Linked DNA regions of Homo sapiens: region 2 is linked to region 1. Evidence: fine-mapped expression QTL. Tissue or cell type: unexposed skin. Region 1 holds a variant in brackets; the other region holds the start of a gene. All regions are shown on one strand. Distances are from middle to middle.

Region 1 (5,380 bases):
TATAGTAACAATGCTCATTAGAGCATTCTGATTATAGTAACAGAAGCCAGTTGAGTTACCTAAAACAAAGGGGCATTAATTATAAACTTCAAAGGTGGAGATGCAGATAGGATGATGGAACTCACGGACAGGGGAACAAAGGTCTGGAAATTCGGAATGTCATACTCCACATTTTGCATTTTTGACTCTTTCTATCCATATACTTTATTCTTCTTAGTGCAGTCTCATTGTCTCTGGTTCTCAGTTCACACACAAAAAATATGGCTACTGACAGTTCTGAAGTTTATAGTTTTTTCAGTTCAAGAGATTCATCCCAAGTCCAGATTGTGAGAGAAGGGACATGCATTGGACAAGACCAGGCCAGGTGCCCATGCCTGTGGGGTCAGGTGCCCATGCCTGTGGGGCCTGCATAAACATGGCTGCTGGGAGCCATCCCTGCAACCAGGTACATGCAGGAGAAGTCATTCTCAGGAAAAGGTGAGTGTGGGACCAGGCAGGGAAGCCAGTTTCTGTCCTTTATTTGGAACCATAATCAAGGCAGACAACCACAGTAAAGAGATGCAGAGGCAGGGAGTAGTGTAAAACCACCTTACACACAGCTTCCTGGCTTTCCCTTCACTTTAGGTTGTAGCTCAAGTTATTCTTGGGCTAAAAAATAAGCTCTGTTGGCCCAATTAAACCAGAATTAATCACCAATTCCCCATCTTTATCTGGTAATTTTAGTTCAACATTGCTCAGCTGATGGCTCATTAAGCCAAGAACTCTCCCAGGTCTCAGTTACCATTTTCAGACAAGACACCTCCTGGGGTGCCTGCCCTGTGGTCTGAAGCTCAAGATGTGGCTCTGGGTCTCCCTTCCTGAGGGCTAGCTACCCAGAAGGGCTGGTGTGACTTCCTCTTGAATGGGTGAGCTGAAGGCATCCAGGGCACCTAGGGCAACTAGTGCATAAATACTTGAAGGGGAAAGGACTCTCATGTTCTGATTTGAGTATCATTTCCTTGGGTTGAATAATTAGAGCCTGGCATGTGAGATGTGGAGGGCTTCAAAGACCATTTGATTTTCAACAGAAAACGGTCTATGGTTTTCTAAAACGACACACCCTGATTCAGCCCAAGGGAAACAGAATGTCTGTGGGTGAGGCCAGGAATCTGCATTTTAAGTAAGTCCTCCAAATGACTCCAGTGCCCAAGCAGAGTTGAAGTCCACTGATGTAGGTGGCCCAACTTTCTAGTTTTATACATGAGGCTACGCAAGTCCAGCAAGGTTCATTTCAGTTGAGAAGAAAAACCATTGATTAAAATAAAAAAAAAAAACCCTAAAAACTTTAAACTGATGAATTCATGTGTTTGCACCTTTTGAACCCGGTTCACCAAGTGGTTCTCTTTGTGAGGCAGGAGAAGTAGCAGGCCACTTGCAGCTCCTCTCTCTGTCTGATGGGAGACCAGGTCCTCCCTGGGAAAAGTAGCAAGTTCTCTCCTGCTGGCCTCCTTCCACAGATCACAGCTGCCTTTGGGGAGAATGACAAAAACTGTTCAGGGTTCCTGGGTAATACGTATCCAGTTTCTGTGCATTCAGGGGAAGAGGAGCGTGGAGCAGAAGGAGAGTGGGCACATGCAAGTCACTCTGATGCCGTCATTTAACTTTACAGCTCCGTTGTGCAAAGCTGTTTACAGGTGAGGAAACTGAAGCTCATCTGGGTTAAGCATGCAGGCCAAAGTCACAAGGCTGGCGAGTAATTAGGCCTGGATTCCTCCTACGCAAGTCTCCCTGACTCACATACCCATGCTCTTTCCTTCACACACTGGGCTGATTTTACTACAATGTTGATCAGATTCGGGGACTGTTTCTTTGGCACTTCTAAATAACACAATTTTGAGACATTAATCACTTGGATTCTACTTTAATTCGATGAATGATTTCAAGGTTAACCTGATGTCTCAAAATTAAAGCTACAGCTCCTGTTCTACAAACTTGGTTTTACTGTAGCAAAATAGAACTATCAACAAACAAGAGATGTGTGCAATGAAAAGTTTTTAAAAGAATTGTCTAGATTCAGTAGAGGAGAGAAATAATAGGGCCTATTTTCATTTCCTTTACCCTGGTCTAACTTGTAAAAGGATTTCCCTACCTGTGTCACTGGTCATGATTGCAAGTTGTCCAGGTTCTTGGCGTTTTGAACAAAGAATTGGACAAAACGCCCAGCAAAGCAAAGAATGGAGCAACAAAAGAACAAAAGCAGGGATTTATTGAAAATGAAAGTACACTCCACAGTGTGGAAGTGGGCCCGAGCACCAGCTCAAGGGCCCAAATACAGAATCTTCTTGGGTCCAAATACCCCTGGAAGTTTCTCATTGGCCACTTCATGCTTACCTCATGTAAATGAAGTGGTAGCCCGCAATCAGTCTGATTGCTTGCAGAAAGCAGCCAACCAGAGGATGAAGTGAAGTTACAAAGGTCACACTCCTGTGCAAACATCTGATTGGTTGCAAAAAGCAACCAATCAGAGGGTAGGGTGAAGTTACAAAGTTATACTTCTATGCAAACTGAAGACTCCGTCCACAATCAGTCTGATCAGAGCCACAGTCAGACCATTCAGAGTCTGGAGTGAAGTTACTAAATTGCAAACAAAGTCTCTACCAGCAATAAGTCTGATTTGTCGCTTACAGACAACTTCCCAACTGCCACGCAGAAAAGGTCAAAGGGAGTAGCCTCTGGTCCTTCTGTTACTGAGGCATGGAAAGTTAGGGTTTTCCTTTCAATTTAGTTCTAGGAAGTCAGTGTGAAAAGCCTTAGGTTCCCTGCCTCCAGTCTCTATTCTCCTGCCTCACATGGCCTTTTGACCTTATATAAAATATGCTTGCTTTTTTGCAGAAAGGTTGGGGTGAAACTCTCCACTCCTGCTTTCATACCATTTGAAGTTCAGACCAGTGAGATTTCCATCAGTTGGGAGTTGAAGATGCCACAAGGACAAGAACTGAGGATGGTTTGCTCAGAGCTGATTTTTAGACACCATTTTCCAGGGATCCCTGGTGACAGAGGAGCATTTTTTTTGTGGTTGAGTTCTGAATTAAAAAGTGTCGTACTATATATTTGTTTGGTCATTTCTATGACTTCAGCACTCTCAAAGACTTGGACAGAAGCATAAATAAGAGGCAGTGTGAGCATTCTCCAAGTAATCATTCCAAGTTGGTGAGTTCATACTCCACCTAGACCTCATGGCCTCGCCACTCTCAGT[C/A]AAACTGGTTTTTGTGGTTGTCAAAGTCCAACATGGCAAATTTCCCACTGATACTAAGTGAGTTGAAAACTCAAGTTACAGTTGATTTTGCCCTAGGGAATTTTACCAAGAACAGCTTTACAGCAGTGGAGAGTTGAAACGTGTGTGTGTGTGTGTGTGTGTGAGAGAGAGAGAGAGAGAGAGACAGAACGAGTGAGCATATGTGTTAGAAAGACAGACACCCAAAAAAATGTCAGATTTGGTTTGGCTACACTTCTTGCTCTTCTGGCCCAGGTGGACAGTTGACCTTCCTTCCCCCTACCTGTTCATAGTCTCTGACTGGCTTTGATGCGGGAGAACTGAAGTCCAAATAAGCATGACCCTAGCCTCTAATACAAACACCGTGCTTCAGATTTCCTCCCCAGAAAGGGAGTTGAGATTCTAACTAGCTGAGTCATCTAGTGACAACTCCCTTCATTGTGTTATGTTACAAAAACATAGTTGTTCACTATGGGAACCCGGATGGGAAATCCATTCCACTTTCAGGTTAAACCGTTAGCCTGGCCAAATGACTGTAAGATTCTACAAGGTCCTGATTTTTCAATAATGCCTTCACCATGATTTGGAAATTACTTTTTCAGACTTAGAAGGTGAGGAAAACTTGAGCAAGAATTGCAAAGGAACTGAAAAACCAATTTGAAACATAAACATTATCTGGAATGTTTATAATGCATGTATTCCTTGTCCAATAGAAACCAAATAAGCTTCTCTGATGAGACCCTTCAGAATAGCTGTCCCTAAGAGGAACTAAATCAGGAATTGGGGATAGCTGGCAAGAAGACATCAAAGAAAGCTCAGGATGTGGAATCTCTACATTGCCCTGGATCTTCTTTTGCAGGTGCAGGTTCCTAGAGTTCTTATTCACCATCCTGAGGACACCAGGGGAATAAAAAGGATTGCAGGGCCTCGTCCTTCTTGACCTTCTCCCCCTCTGATTTCCTGACTGTCTTCTCAGTGGTCCTGATGTCTTCTATAATGACTCGATGTTTTTAGGAATCAGAGTCCTGGACACAGAGACACATCCAGGTTTGGCACCAGGCTTGTGTGAGTTCTTTTCTATTTTTTTAATGAAGAAGAAGGAAGAACATAAACAAGTGTAAGTGGAAAGCATTTTTTTTCCTTCTAGATCACATATGTGACATTTTACAGGGATTTCTTCTAGGTTGTCAATACATTAAAGACAACTAAAAAGATTATTACAGGGAATTCTTAAAGTCTTAAAGGAAGATAGTCTCACAGGAGGATGAGATCTCTGACAAATCAATACGTTAATTATTGTCTGAAAAGGACGTGGAGCAAGATTTCCCCCTCATTTTCATTCTTCAGTTAGAGCTTCTGATCAACATAAGGATCATTCACCCAACAAATATTTACTGAGTAATCCCTGAATGTCAGGCATGAGTCTAAGAGCGTCACACTCATATCTTACTACGTTCCACAGCAACCTTCTGAGGTAGGTGCTATCGTAAACACTATCACACAGGGTATAAAACTGTAAGAGCTTAAGTGCCTTTCCCAAGGCTTCACAGATTGTCCAGCGTGGCCAGAATTTTAATTCAGGCAGTCTAGATCCAGAGCCTCTTAATCACTGTACGGTGTTGCCTCCAACCTGGAGGAACTGGTCTGAAGAGAACAAGTATTACCACGAGTGTTAATACCATTATAGGTAAAATACACGTAGTGCCTAGATATTGGTTTCTAAATATGGTTCTCCAATGAAAGGAATGAAGGCACTTTGGACTTCGGAGAAGTGGTGGCTGATATCAGGGCTGAAACAACAATATGAGATGATTATGGAATATTTTGTGCTGGTGTTCTGTGTTCTTTCATGAGATGATCATTCAGGTGAGGTCACAAGAGGACATATAAGGAGGCTCAGGAAAACACAGTTTACTGTACTCACAGATCCTAAAGACAAGAGGCACAGGACACCACAAAGGGCCTTGGGGGAAAGCTCTGGGGTGGCCAGGAGGCAGAGGGGCAGGAGTGAGAGGAGATCCAGGCCCATGGTCATGTGAAAAGCAGGGCAAGATGAACTGTTTAGGTTTGAATACTTTCCATAGGCTCTAAGCCATAGAGGTGTCCCCTAGTTGCCTGGTACCTGGC
Region 2 (5,380 bases), 9.0 kb before region 1:
ACTCCTGCTCAAAGAAACATGTCATCCATTCATCACCACATACATCCGTTTCTATCAGCTGTGCTGTTTCTGTTCTTTTCTGGATAACTGATAAAAAAAATAAGTATCAACATAGAATGGTAGAACAGCACAAATTATCCTGATATTATGATTGTGAATAGGCCTTACTTATATAGCTTAATAACTAAAAAAGGGGGCATTGTACATAGTTTGTATGTTTTATATGAGTGTATGTATGTGTATGTTTTATATGAGTGCATGTATACACAGGGGTAAGGGCATGGTTTGCCCTGGGCTTGGGTTAAATTCATATAGTTGCCATTCTTATTATATATGGATTCTATAATACTTTCTTATAAAGTAGTAAAATGTATTACACTTAATCAGGCAATTGTTCTGGTATAATGTATGAAGTAATTGAGATGCACTATATGAACACAAACTCTACATCTAGACTGCCTGGGTTCAAATGCTAACTGCCACTTTCTGGCAACGTGACCTTGGATGAATTACTCCATCTCTCTGTGATTTTGTTTCCTCATCTTTAAAATAGGAAGTCACTTCATAGGGTTATTATAAGGACTGAATTATTGAATCTATTCAAAAGCACTCTGTATTTGGGAAGCTGAGGAAGGGGTATTGCTTGAGCTCAGGAGTTAGAGGCTGCAGTAAGCTATGATTGTGCCACTGCATTCTAGCCTGGGTGACAGATCAAGACCCTGTCTCTGGGGGAAAAAAAAAGAAAGAAAGAAAAGAAAAGAAGCATTTAGAATTTGTTTAGGTCGGGGACTGGGGATCCATCCTTGGATACCTATTGCCTAAACCATGCCTGAGTCAGTGAGAATAAACACTGGCTAGGTGGGTGGATGGATGGATAAGTGGATGCCTATCTGGTTTGATAGAGCTGCCACTATATACATGTGGTGGATAAAAATGTGTAGCCATGTAGAGAGTAATTACATACTGGCCCTCAGTGCTGGCAAAGGTGTAGTTCCACTGGCCGAGGGAATCAAGACATAGTGGTCCTTCTGCTAAGCCAAGGGCTGCCACAATGACACAGTAGCCAGATCCTGCAATTCCAATGAGAGCAGCCAATACAGAAGAAAGCATCTAGGGAAAAGCAGACACACAGGAAGTGAGCCACAGAGTGCCACAGCTACATCTTAGGAGTCATTTTCACCACCAGGGCAGGAGGACCTACCGCACATCGTTTGCCACAGTTTTCATGGCCACAGCAGCCACAGCAGTCATCCTGTTCCAGCCCAATGAAGACAAATGCTGGCAGGAGCATCTGGTTAGGAAACAAACAAAGTCAGGTCATTGTCTTGCTCAGGCTCATATGGGTCAGGTTAGGCATCTCTTGGTAAAATATATTTATTTCCAATGACATTAACTGGCTTTGATTAGGTTGACCAGATATCTCAAAGAATGTAAACCTCTGAGGAGAAAAAGACCATTTAAATGTCATATCTGCTTGTTTTCATGTAATCTGTCAAAGCATTTTTTAGGGTGAGGATGTAACATGGGAGGAGTAAAATAATAAACTGTAAACGTGTTTATTCCACAAGAGTTTATCACACGACCCCAGATAACAAACTCTGTTTTGGAAATATTAAACCCTTTCTTTAAATCTGATTTTTTCCACTTGTAAAATGCAGAATATACCAACAAATCTTTAATAGAATAACTGAAACTTTTTTGTAAATGGGAGACATGAAAGCTATATATAATAAATATTAACTGCTTCCTTGATTATACAAATGCATAGTTTTAACTTAACAATATTAAGCTCTTAAAATATAGTAAATATGAAATACTTCAGGTTCAAGATCGAAAGAAACTTAAGTGTGATGTTATGTTTAAGACAAATAATCATGTTAACATGATAATAATGCTTAAATTTGAGGCAGACGGGCACTGTGGCTCATGCCTGTAATCCCAGCACTTTGGGAGGCCAAGGTAGGAGGGTCACTTGGGCCCATGAGTTCAAGACCAGCCTGGGCAACATGGCGAAACCCCGTCTCATTAAATAAAATAAAATTAAATAAAATCTCATTAAATAAATAATTTAGGGCAGATTTGCCATGCCATAATCAGTGTATTAGGTTTAAATGTTTTACTATCTTTTACTTGATTAAGAAAATTTATCACGTATGGTACCATTCCATAAAATTTCTCCTTAAAATTTTTAATCCCAGCACTTTAAAGTAGCAAACTTAAGTTTGCTCACATTCTTTCCATGCTGTGGTTGAAGCTAATGCTTTCAGCTCCCAGGTTGGCAGGGAAATTCCTCTCACTTCAATCAAAAACAATTCTTGGAAAAAATAACACATTCCACTATTAGCTTCAGACACCGACCTGCTGCTAACTGTAGGGTTTTTCCTAGACGCCACACCCCAGCCTTACATAAAGGAGAAAGCTTAGAGTTCTTTTAAAATAGCAATGCACTCACAATTCATTATTTTTCCCTATCACAGATGGCTGAAAATAAACAGCAGAGAATTTGGATTCAAAACTGTTGATTTAGGCAGAGAACCAGCCAACCCCTTCCGGCTCCCCAGAGCAAATGTTAAATGACTGCCCGTTCTAGTAGAAACTCTATAGTCTCTCAAATCTGATTTAAAAGCGAATATCTGTTTCCTACCTATAGAGTTTAGCAAAAAGGCAGTTCACTTTTAGTTGAAAGAGCATTTTGTAAAACAACATCTCATAAAATTACTACGCTATACTGTACCAATCTCGCTTTTGTATAATCTGCTTTCAAAGGAATGAACAGCAACAAAAAAGTCACTTGATTTAGAAATATGCATTACAAAAAACTTTCCATGAAAATACATAATGAAAACATCTAGGAAACAGGAGAGAATTCAGTAATAATCCTGAATGACTTACCAGCAGGCCACCTCCTACGATGCCAGAAAAGAACCACACGAAGCGGCTGAGGTGGTTTTCGGAGGCATACTTTGTTTCCCCATTGGGAAAGTAAAGCAAAATATTAGCCGCGATGCACAGGAGGGCGAGCCCCACCAGAGAATGTCCGATGCATCGTGCACACTTCCCATAGCACATGGTGGTCTGCTAGGTTTTCTCCCCCTTCTCTTTGTCTTCAGCTCAGTGATACCCCAAATTAGATGAAAGTGTGCCCTTCTGGTGGAGAAAGCAAACACCACTCTCAGCCCATTCCTGCTACCTCTTAAATACTGCGATTCTTAGTCACTGAGGGGATGAGGTACTTTGCTTTCATTGGTCCTAATGGCAGGCTCTGGCTGTGGTGCGAAGAGGCAGGGGGAATGTCCCGCCCTTCAGACGAAATCCTTGGGACAGGCAAAACCAGGGGCAGGATGTGAGAAACAGCCTCAGTCATAGGCAACAGGGAAAATGATTAATCTTGAACAAGGCATTGACTGTGCAACTCCTCCACAAGATAAAGAATCAACAGGAAAGCCTAACATGACTTTCCAGTAACTGCCAAGTGTCCGAGATGCAACAGCCCTGGTTGAGGCTTTGAAAGACAGTGAGCTGTGCCCCTGCTCCATGCAGCTGTCTGGACAGCTTCCAATCTGAGAGCTCTGTGTTCATTTCTACCTTTGTGCTGATTTAATTTACAACCTGGGGCAAATCTCCTGAGCTCATTTCCTTGTCTATTAAATACAAGGTGTCTGAGACGTCTCCCATGGATTTGAGAAGGCTGTTGGGAAAACTACAGAGCAAACTTCTTTACTCTGCCTACAGCAAGCTCTGCAGGATGGATTTCAGTGTTCAGCGTCCCTGGACATCTGCCTCTAAAACAAATCTGCACCACAACAGAGGTGGCATCAGTCAACACAAAGGGCTCAGGTGCTTTTTAAAAATTATTGAGTGTTGCTGTCAGGAAAAGCAATGCCAGGAAGGGCCAAGGAAGGCCTAAAGCATGGGACAAAAATAAAAAGAGGAAGAAGAGAGGGGGAGGAAGAGAATGGGAGAGAAGGAAAGAGGAAAGGAGGAAGGAAGAGAGGAAGGAAAGAAGAGAAGGAGGGAGAGAAGGAGAGAGGGAAAAAGGGAGGAAGGGAGGGAGGGAGGAAGGAAGGAAGGAAAAAAGGAAGGAAGGATGGGGGGAGGGAAGGAAGGAGGGAGAGGGAGAAAAAAATAAGACAAAGGGACTTGGCAAGCAGAGTGGAGAAACAAGGTTCAGAGAAACAGAACTGGCTAGGAGTGTCAGAACCCACACAGAGGTAAACAGATGGTTTACCCAGCCAGATCCTGAGACCAGCTTCCACAGGCTCCCCACACAGGGCAGAGAAAGGGTGTTAGACTAACTTTCTAGGTGGTTACCTTGCAGAAGGAGGGGCTGGGCACTGAATAAATTTATGCCTTGAACAGCAGATTGCACCAGCCAGTGGATGGTGGTGGGAGGTGGACAGGGTGGCCGGGTGGGGCCAGGCCTGGAGGGCCTTGTCACCAGGACAAGATAGAGAGTACAGAAAATAGAAAAGGACCAAGGTAGGGAGGCATTAGCTTAGAAGAAGAAGGTGAATGAGGTTCACGAATCTAGAGTCTGAAGGATTTGGCCCGGAACTAGAGGGCGGGACACATACCAAATTTGAGGAGACCAGCTGTGGTTAGTGATGTGGCATGGGACCGGAGGAGGGCCCAAGAAGTGTGGCCTCAGCACACTAACAGGGGTGAAGCCAGAATCCAGGATGGCCTGAGGAAATAAATCAGTGGAGTTGGGAAGCGTGGAACCACCCACCTGCTCAGGCGGAGGCAGGCAAATCCTCATAAGAGTGTCATTGGGTCACCACTATGTGTCCAACAACAGGGAACGTGTGTTTGGCCCGATGGCTTAGAGACAGGATTCCACTGGTGACAGAGCCTATGGGTGAATGACGGCATCCTTTGTTGAAGCATAATCATTGCAACCCTCCTGTCTGCTGATCTATCCCACCTGGGGCCAAAATGGGGGAAAGTGATGCTTAAACTACTGATATGGTTAGGCTTTGTGTCCCCACCCAAATCTCATCTTGAATTGTAATCCCCATAATCCTCACGTGTCAAGTGAGAGACTGGGGGGAGGGAACTGAATCATGGCAGCAGTTTCCCCCATGCTGTTCTTGTGATAGTGAGTGAGTTCTCATGAGATCTGACAGTTTTATACGGAGCTCTTCCCCCTTCTCTTGATGATTGTCTTTCCTGTTGCCTTGTAAAGAAGGTGTCTTGCGGCCAGGCGCAGTGGCTCACGCCTGTAATCCCAGCACTTTGGGAGGCCGAGGCGGGTGGATCACAAGGTCAGGAGATCGAGACCATCCTGGCCAACATGGTGAAACCCTGTCTCTACTAAAAATGCAAAAATTAGCTGGGCGTGGTGGCGAGCACCTGTAATCCCAGCTACTGGGGAGGCTGA

The links. PIP is the estimated chance that this variant, and not a neighbour inherited with it, causes the effect. A credible set is the group of variants that fine-mapping cannot tell apart.
Region 2: it holds the start of TM4SF1-AS1, and the variant in region 1 is the best candidate, but not a certain one, in a credible set for the expression of TM4SF1-AS1 in unexposed skin (GTEx, PIP 0.66).

Annotation. Positions count from the first base shown.
Region 1 is chr3:149,383,497-149,388,876 of GRCh38, forward strand. It overlaps TM4SF1-AS1 (TM4SF1 antisense RNA 1), which reads left to right. Exons shown (of 2, transcript NR_109810.1): 2 at 2,876-3,087. Among named protein-coding and RNA genes, the nearest start is that of TM4SF1-AS1, 8.4 kb to the left of the region's middle. RefSeq lists an enhancer at 3,272-4,471. The variant C/A (reference allele first, on the strand shown) is at 3,236.
Region 2 is chr3:149,374,479-149,379,858 of GRCh38, forward strand. TM4SF1-AS1 (TM4SF1 antisense RNA 1) reads left to right here and starts at 3,300. Exons shown (of 2, transcript NR_109810.1): 1 at 3,300-3,837. TM4SF1 (transmembrane 4 L six family member 1) reads right to left here and starts at 3,171. Exons shown (of 5, transcript NM_014220.3): 1 at 2,893-3,171; 2 at 1,202-1,291; 3 at 965-1,110. The coding sequence starts at 3,069.